Regions from separate parts of the Homo sapiens genome. Here region 1 is reported to be linked to region 2. Evidence: microRNA targets listed by miRTarBase, many of them from high-throughput screens and not tested one by one. Region 2 holds a microRNA gene; the other region holds the end of a gene's coding sequence.

The links. Region 2 holds the annotated microRNA hsa-miR-513a-5p (UUCACAGGGAGGUGUCAU, at 2,183-2,200, shown strand). A microRNA usually pairs through its seed, bases 2 to 8, with sites in the 3' UTR of a target mRNA and lowers its output. Matches are read on the target gene's strand: a 7mer-m8 pairs with bases 2 to 8, a 7mer-A1 pairs with bases 2 to 7 and ends in A, and an 8mer does both.
Region 1: miRTarBase lists PIGO as a target of hsa-miR-513a-5p. The part of its 3' UTR that is shown has no 7-base or 8-base seed match.

What each region holds. Positions count from the first base shown.
Region 1 is chr9:35,085,673-35,089,672 of GRCh38, forward strand. PIGO (phosphatidylinositol glycan anchor biosynthesis class O) reads right to left here. Exons shown (of 11, transcript NM_032634.4): 10 at 3,708-3,778; 11 at 3,016-3,549. The coding sequence ends at 3,420. Among named protein-coding and RNA genes, the nearest start is that of FANCG, 7.7 kb to the left of the region's middle.
Region 2 is chrX:147,211,358-147,215,737 of GRCh38, reverse strand. MIR513A1 (microRNA 513a-1) reads left to right here and starts at 2,147; the gene lies at 2,147-2,275. The region is part of intron 1 of LOC105373347 (periphilin-1); the gene reads right to left.

The DNA.
Region 1 (4,000 bases), not on the chromosome of region 2:
GGCTGAGTAAAGGAAGATAAGACAGAAAAAGGCACTACTGTATGAGCCCATTTATATGAAATGTCCAGAACAGGCAAATCTATAGAGACAGAAAACAAATTAGTGGTACCAGGAGTTAAGGGGGAGAAGAGAAGGAATGACTGCTTAAGGGTACAGGGTTTCTTTTTGGGGTAATGAAAACATTCTGGAATTGATAATGATGATAATTGTACAACGTTGTGAATGTACTAACGGCCACTAAATTATACACTTTAAAATGGTGAATTTTATATGAATTTTACTTCAATTTTAAAAAAGAAAAAGAATGAAGTACTGCTGTGTGCTGCTATATAGATGAAACCGGAAAACATTATACTAAGTGGAAGATGCCAGTCACAAAAGACCACATATTATTATGATCCCATTTCTGTGAAATATCCAAAATGGGCAAATATATAGAGAAACAGCAGATTAGTGCTAGCCAGGGGTTGGGGAGGATTGGAGGGTGATATCTAAACAGTAGATTTTCTTTTGGGGTTGGTGAAAATGTTCTAAAATTGATTCTGGTGATGGTTGTACAATTCTGTAAATACACAAAAACCATTAAATCTTACACCTTACATGGGTAAATTTTATGGTAAATTGCATTTCAATAAAGCTTTTTTAAAAAAGAATCAGGGCTGGGTGCAATGGCTCACACCTGCAATCCCAACACTTGAGGAGGTCGAGGCAGGAGGATGGCTTGAGGCCAGGAGTTCAAGACCAGCCTAGGCAAGACAGCAAGACCCCCACCTCTACAAAAAATTAAAGGAAAAAAAAAAAGAATCATTGAGTTAGTGTGGAATGGACTCTGATTTCAAGGAAAAGGGAGGGATAAGATAATTTTTCTTTTTAAAAGAGAGAGGATCTATGTTGCCCAGGCTGGAGTGCAGTGGCTATTCACAGGTGCATTCATTGTGCACTACAGCCTCTAACTCCTGGGCTCAAGTGATCCACCTCAGCCTCTACATAGCTGGGACCATGCCTGGCTAATTTTTTTATTTTTGTAGAGACGGAGTCTTGCTATCCTCAAGTGATCCTCCCACCTCTGCCTCCCAAGTAGCTGGGACTATAGGGACATGCCACAGTGCCTGGCTAGAAATAATTTTTAATAGCGTAAATCAATGTACTAATGTCTTTATCTAATAGAATCTTATAGATACACCAGGAGAAAGAATAGACAGTGGTTGGCAGATCAGCAAATTAGCCTTAGGCTCCAGGCAAGGAGGCTACTGCAAAAAGTGCAGGGTACCTGGCTGAGAAGTGGAGGAACTAGGGCCTAAAATCCTTCCATGGGTGCTAGGGATGGAGGAAAGGTTTTTGTTTTGGTTTTTTTCCCCTTTCTCAAAAAGACACCATTTGCTCACCGAACTATGCTTGGGAGTTGTGTCCACCAGACTTGGGGAGAAGCGTTTTTCTAATTCATCTTACAGGCCAGCTGGGGCCAACTTCACCCCCTTGCATTATTAAACCTCTTTCTACCATGGTTAACAACCTATCCCTTTTTTTTTTTTTTTTTTTTTGAGAGAGAGTCTGGCTCTGTCTCCCAGGCTGGAGTGCAGTAGCGTGATCTTGGCTCACTGTAACCTCTGCCTCCCAGGTTCAAGCGATTCTCCTGCCTCAGCCTCCTGAGTAGCCGGAATTACAGGTGCACACCACCACACCTGGCTAATTTTTGTATTTTTAGTAGAGATGGGGTTTTGCCATGTTGGCCAGGCTGGTCTCAAACTCCTGACCTCAGGTGATCCACCCGCCTTGGCTCCCCAAAGTGCTGAGATTACAGGCATGAGGCACCACACCCAGCTGAACCATACTTTTCATCATCTTACTATTTGGCATCTGTAACACTAGGGACCACTGGCCATTAATAATCTGAACTTAGCCAGGTGCTGTGGCTCACACCTGTAATCCTAGTGCTTTGAGAGGCCAAGGTGGAAGGATCGCTTGAGGCCAGGAGTTCACGAACAGCCTGGGCAATGTAGCAAGACTCTGTCTGTACAGAAATTTAAAAATTAGCCAGGCATGGTCCCAGATACTGAGGAGGCTGAGATGGATCACTTGAGCCCAGGAGTTTGAAACTACAGGGAGCTATGATTGCACCACTGCCCTCCAGCCTGGACAATAGAGCAAAAATATGTCTTTAAAATGATAGTAACAATAAAAATAATTTCAATTCTTCCCTTAGCTACCTACCACAGCAGTGAACGTTTATACTTCACAACCACTACTACTCAGCTTCTCTACTTTATGCCAGCTAAAAGTAGGTGCTATCCCATGGTTTTAACATCTGTTCTGTTTTTCAGTGGTATCAGCTCCTCTTGTTCTAGGTACTGTCAAACCTCAAATCCCAGTCCTGATGCTTCTCTCCAGGGCCTCTTCCCAACTCTTTTGATGGACATCTCTAGGAGGATTTCATGCCAGCATTTCAAACATGACAGGAGTGCTGGGGTGAACAGAGGGCACAAAACATACACATGAGAAAAGAACCAGTGGATTCACACAATTTTGGCTTCAAGTCAGGAATAATGAATGGGACAAGGTGGAATGCTACATAAGATGGGCATGTAGATCTGATAAAGAGTGGCACAGGTTGGGAAACAAGGGAGGCTTCCACAGAAGGGAAGGGCAAAGGGTGTTCTATAGTGAAAAGGCCCAGTGGAGCGGGGGCATAGCACTATTTGGGGCTTCAGACAGTTAAAGTCGGTGCTGCATGATGCCTGGGCTTGTCTTCTCAGTCTTCTCTCTTTATCAGACAAAGAACAGGAACTTAACAAAATGTGTTGCATGGCAAAGGAAAATAGCGGTGGGATAATAGGATTGATTTGGGAAGAGGTGGAGGCAGTGAATTCAGACAACTCCAACCACTTCATAAAGGTTCTCAGGTGCAGCCAGGCTTTCCTAAGATGACTGATCTCATCTGTGCCTGGTGGCAGGAGAGACTGATCCTCCTCACAACCCCTATAGAACAGTGGGGCTCCCCCACATCTCAGACACACATAATTATATTATCATTTTATTACACTTTTTTTTAAATAGTAGAGACGGGGTCTTGTTATGTTCCACAGGCTGGTCTTGAACTCCTGGGACCAAGCAATCCTCCCACCTCTGCCTCCCAAAGTGCTGGGATTATAGGTGCAAGTCACCACGCCCGGCCTATTTTATTCCACTTCGGAGACCGCCCCCCTTGTCCCTCAGATGCATCCAAATCAGGAGTTAGGGATCATACTCCACTGTGGTCCTGAATTATAGAATAATGAAGTCCTAGATGTCAGCGGCCCCTGGCTGCATGATAGTAAGAGTATGGCTGAGCCTGTCTTGCAGATCATCCAGTACCTGTACAGGCCAGGCTACACTGTTCTCAAGCACTCTCTGTAGCCAAGTGCCAGTAATCACAGACTAGGCTACCTCTGCTGGGCCAGAAATAGCTGCCTGAACCAGGAGCTCACAGCACCATCCACTCTCATCACCAAAGCTATGCCCAGGAGAAGTCCCACGCTGCTCACAATGAAGCCCACAGCCTCAAATATGAACCTGCAAAGAAAGGCGGAGAATCTCAGGCAACAGAGTAGGTCTACTGCCTTTTCCCTGTAGAGGCAAAACCTTGGCCATCCTGGATGTTTAGGATCTTCATACTTTGTTCCAAGTTTCTCCCTCCCCACCACCTCTACTTCTCAAGCAAATCTACTCACTTAGGGGCAAACACTTTCCAGACCATGAGATGCCTGCGAAGGATGGAGGCTGCCAAGGCACAGGCCAGAATCTAGAGGAGGAGAGGAGGGGCCACGTTACTTGTGAAGGAGAGGAGGAAGCGGAGCAAAAGGAGAGTTTCTATAGGCCCCTGTAAAAAATGGAAGCAGGAGAATAGTGCATGTCAGTGGAAAAAATATTGCATGTCCTGGGCTAGGAGTTAGGAGACCTACTTCCTGCCCTGCCCCAAGCACTGACTCACTATGTGACTTTGGGCAAGTCAGTATCCATCTGC
Region 2 (4,380 bases):
TTCTCTCTCATCTACCTGTGACCTGGAAGCCTCCTCCCTACTTTGAATTGTCCCACCTTTTTGGACCGGACCTAACCAACATTCATTTTACATATTTTGACTGATGTCTCATGTCTCCCTAAAATATTTAAAACCAAACTGTGCTCTGACCACCTTGGGCACACGCCCTCAGGACCTCCTGAGGCTGGGTAATGGGTGTGCATCCTCAACCTTGGAAAAATTAACTTCTGAAATTAACTGAGACCTGTCTCAAATGTTCAGGGTTCATAAACTAGTAAAATATTCTTTGAAGATAGATAGACTGTGATGAATTAAATATGAACACTGAAAACTCCAGAGCAACCGCTATTCTTTTAAAGTGACCAACTAATAAGCCAAGAGTGCAGAAAATATAACTGAATGATAAAAATACTAAATCTACCATCAGGCAGAAAAACAGGAAAATTAGGAATTACAAAAGGATGAAGTACAGAAAACAACTAGAAAGCCAGTAGATTTAAACGCATGTACATAAATAATTATAATAAATGATATAAATGCTTCAATTAAGAGAGACACTGTCAAATTATGTAAAAATAAGAAACAGCTGTACACTTTCTAAAACGAAACCATTTTAAATATGAAGACCTACGTGAAAGTTGGGTAAAAGGATGGAAAATATATTAATGCAAACAGTAAATATTAAAGCTAAAAAATCCTAGCACTATTAATTGTTAATCACACAGCGAGAGAGAGAGACTGAGCCCAAATAAATGTACTATAAAGAACCATGGAACTAAGAAAAATTAAATAGCATTTCTTGTCTTCCAGCCCATTATCTGTCTTGTCTGTCTCTCGTATTAATTTCTATGGGTTCTTCCCACTGCATAGCCTGAAGAAGAAATTAAATTTCTGCTCTCTCCAACCTGGTACTGTCTGACTCTTCTCTAGTAGTTTGGATCCAGGTGGTTGTATTCTGTGGTTTTTCCATTGGAATTAGGGTCTGTGCAGCACAGCTGGAGTTTTAGGACCATAGAGAGCTTTGGTGAGTGGTTGGCCCTGCCTACTTAACTGTAATTTTAAAAGTTTTTGGGGTTTTTTTGTTTGTTTGTTGTTTTTTTTTTGAGACAGGGTCTCACTCTGTAACCCGGGCTGGAGTATATTGGCACTATCTCCGCTCACTGCAACCTCTGCCTCCCAGGTTCAAGTGATCCTCCTGAGTAGCTGTGATTACAGGCGCGAGCCACCACACCCCGCTAAGTTTGTATTATTAGTAGAGATGGTGTTTGACCATGTTGGCCAGGGTGGTCTCAAACTCCTGGCCTTAAGTGATATGCACACCTGGACCACCCAAAGTACTGGGATTACAGGCATGAGCCACCATGCCCGGCCGACTCTGAAGATTTTTTTTTTTTTTTTTTAGATGGATTTTCACTTTTGTTGCCCAGGCTGGAGCACAACGGCACAACCTCGGCTCACTGCAACCTCTGTCTCCTGGGTTCAAATGATTCTCCTGCCTCAGCATCCAGATTAGCTGGGGTTACAGTCACCCACCACCACACCCGGCTGATTTTTTGTATTTGTAGTTGAGATGGAGTTTCACCACGTTGTCCAGGCTGGTCTCAAACTCCTGACCTCAGATGATCTACCAGCCTTGGCCTACCAAAGTGCTGGGATAACAGGCATGAGCCACTGTGCCTGGCCTGATTTTGAGGATTTTTAATGAGACAAGCAAATTAACGTGAAAACTAATGGGATAATTCAGACAAGGATTACTCGCCTTTGGGGAAGAGATGAAGTGAAAAGCTCTATTCTTGATCAGTCTAAAAATCTGCGTGTTAATTAGCCATTCGAGGTGGTGTGTGCCTTTAACCTAAGCTACTCGGGAGGCTGAGGCAGGAGAAGTGCTTGAACCCAGGAAGCGGAGGTTGCAGTGAGCTGAGATCACGCCAATGCATGCCAGACTGGGTGACAGAGCCAGACTTCATCTGAAAACAAAAACAAAACAAAAATCTGCATGTCAAAATCTCACTCGGGGCAGGATGAAAAGGGGAGTGCTGGGGGTTACAAGTTGCATTGTCCCTTGGCATAAATCTTGGTGGCCATGCGAAGGCATACACCTATAGGGACTTGAATAAAAACAGCATGAAAAGGGAGCATTTGGTCTGGGATGCCACATTCAGCCATTCAGCGTACAGTGCCTTTCACAGGGAGGTGTCATTTATGTGAACTAAAATATAAATTTCACCTTTCTGAGAAGGGTAATGTACAGCATGCACTGCATATGTGGTGTCCCTGAGGATGGGGGTGTAGCTGCGAGCATGGTGATGCCTGTTTTGCATCCTGTGCACCCACTCCTCAGTGCTGGGCTACACTTCAAGGAACTTTTTGTGCCTTCTAGACGACTGTACATAGGAATTGTGGACTCCTGAGAAAACGCATGCACTTAGGTTCCTTAAGAATTTATTTTTGCCAAATGAGGCTTGGCTCAAATAGGAAATACATTGGATAGAGGCCACAGCCATTCTTCGTCAGCTGGAATGCTTTACTCCAGATTCCTAAATTCTCTAAACTTTTTTCACTTATCAACTAGTCATCATTTGCAAGGATTCTCCTTTAGCGCTCCCAAAAGACTCTCCTGCCTCTCAGGTCCCTTCATTGCTGATCCACAGCGTCCATTTTCTGTCAAAGACTAAAACATTTTCTCATTGACTTTTAAAATACCTTTCAAAGCCTTAAGTCACCAATTTATGAAGGATTAAGCATAGTCCACCCAAGAATATTTCACTCTTTTTCATTATCTTTTTTCCCCGTTTTTTAAGAATATGTATGAACAATGGAAGGGTATGATGGAATTGATACTCAAGAGATATCTCCTAGTCTTCTCTCCCCATTTTCTTTGTGTGTGTGTGTGTGTGACAGAGTCTTGCTCTTTCGCCCAGGCTGGAGTGCAGCGGTGTGATCTGGGCTCACTGCAACCTCTATCTATCTCCCAGGTTCAAGGGATTCTCCTTCCTCAGCCTCCCGAGTAGTTGGGATTACAGGTGTGCCCCAACACACCTGGCTACTTTTTGTATTTTTAGTAGAGATGGGGTTTCACCATGTTGATGAGGCTGGTCTCGAACTGCTGACCTCCTGATCCACCCACCTAAGCCTCCCAAATGGCTGAGATCACAGGCGTGAGCCACCACGCCTGGTCCCATTTTCTTGTGTTGACACTTCTTAACTCTTAACCTAATGGAGAGAGATAGAGGGAAATACACACACACACAAACACACAAAAAAAGAGAGAGAGGGCAAAAGAGTAAGACAAGTGCCGGATGGTGTGAGGCCATCTGCAGCATGAAACTAGTATGCATTTTTGAGAAGTAGGTTATAAATAAGCTACTTATATTGCAGAAATGTGTTAAAAATGTTATAAATAGTAAGTTATTAATACAAATTTGATTCCAATGGAAATAGAGGTTATAGCATATACATCAAAAGGGAGAAAGTATAAAAAACAATTACTATATGGTTACAGGCAGGATTTTAGTTTGTTTTGTTACGTTCAGAATGGATGAATATGTTTAAGACCATTAATGTCTGGAAGTAAAAAAACAATCAGTTGAAGTATCTTTTTCAATATTAAAACAATTGCTCTAATAGATTACATAGCATCTTTTTCATTGGGGGCGGGGGAACATTCTGAACAGTAAAAAAATTCTGTCAGTTGGAAATGCTGTATGTACATAGAAATTTCCAAAGTGATAACACTTTTTAGTATATAATTTCTAAAACTGTATTATAGTGAATGCATGTGTACTTATATAATTTTAAGTCATATCCTAAAACGAAAGAAGAGAATTTAGTTAGTATCATATCTCTTTTATGATTTCTCAAAAGAGTACTCTATTCACTGTTATTTGTGGTTTTTCTTTCAGTGAAATACTTTTTTGTATCATTCATCCGTGTTTCTACCAATTTATTAAGGTTTAACTGACATAACTTTTGTATATATTTAAGGTGTACAACATGATGTTTGGATATATGTATATATTATACAATGATTAAATCCACCTAATTAAAACATAAAATAATATAAACATAACATATTTAGGTGAAACTCTAAATACAAATTATAGGATCTCTGTGGTATGCAGAATAACAGTCCCCCTCCAAAAGATGTTTACAGAGCAACCCCTGAACTCAAAAACATCACATTTTATGGTAGAAGGAAATTTGCAGATATGACTAAATATTTTGAGATTGGGATTATCCTAGATTATCTAGGTGAGTCCAACATAATCACAAGGGTTCTTATAAGTAGAAGGAAGGTGGTTAGAATAAGAGAAACATTGGAAAATGCTACAGTATTCAATAGAGGTGGAGGTAAAGTCCATGAGCCAAAGAATGATCTTC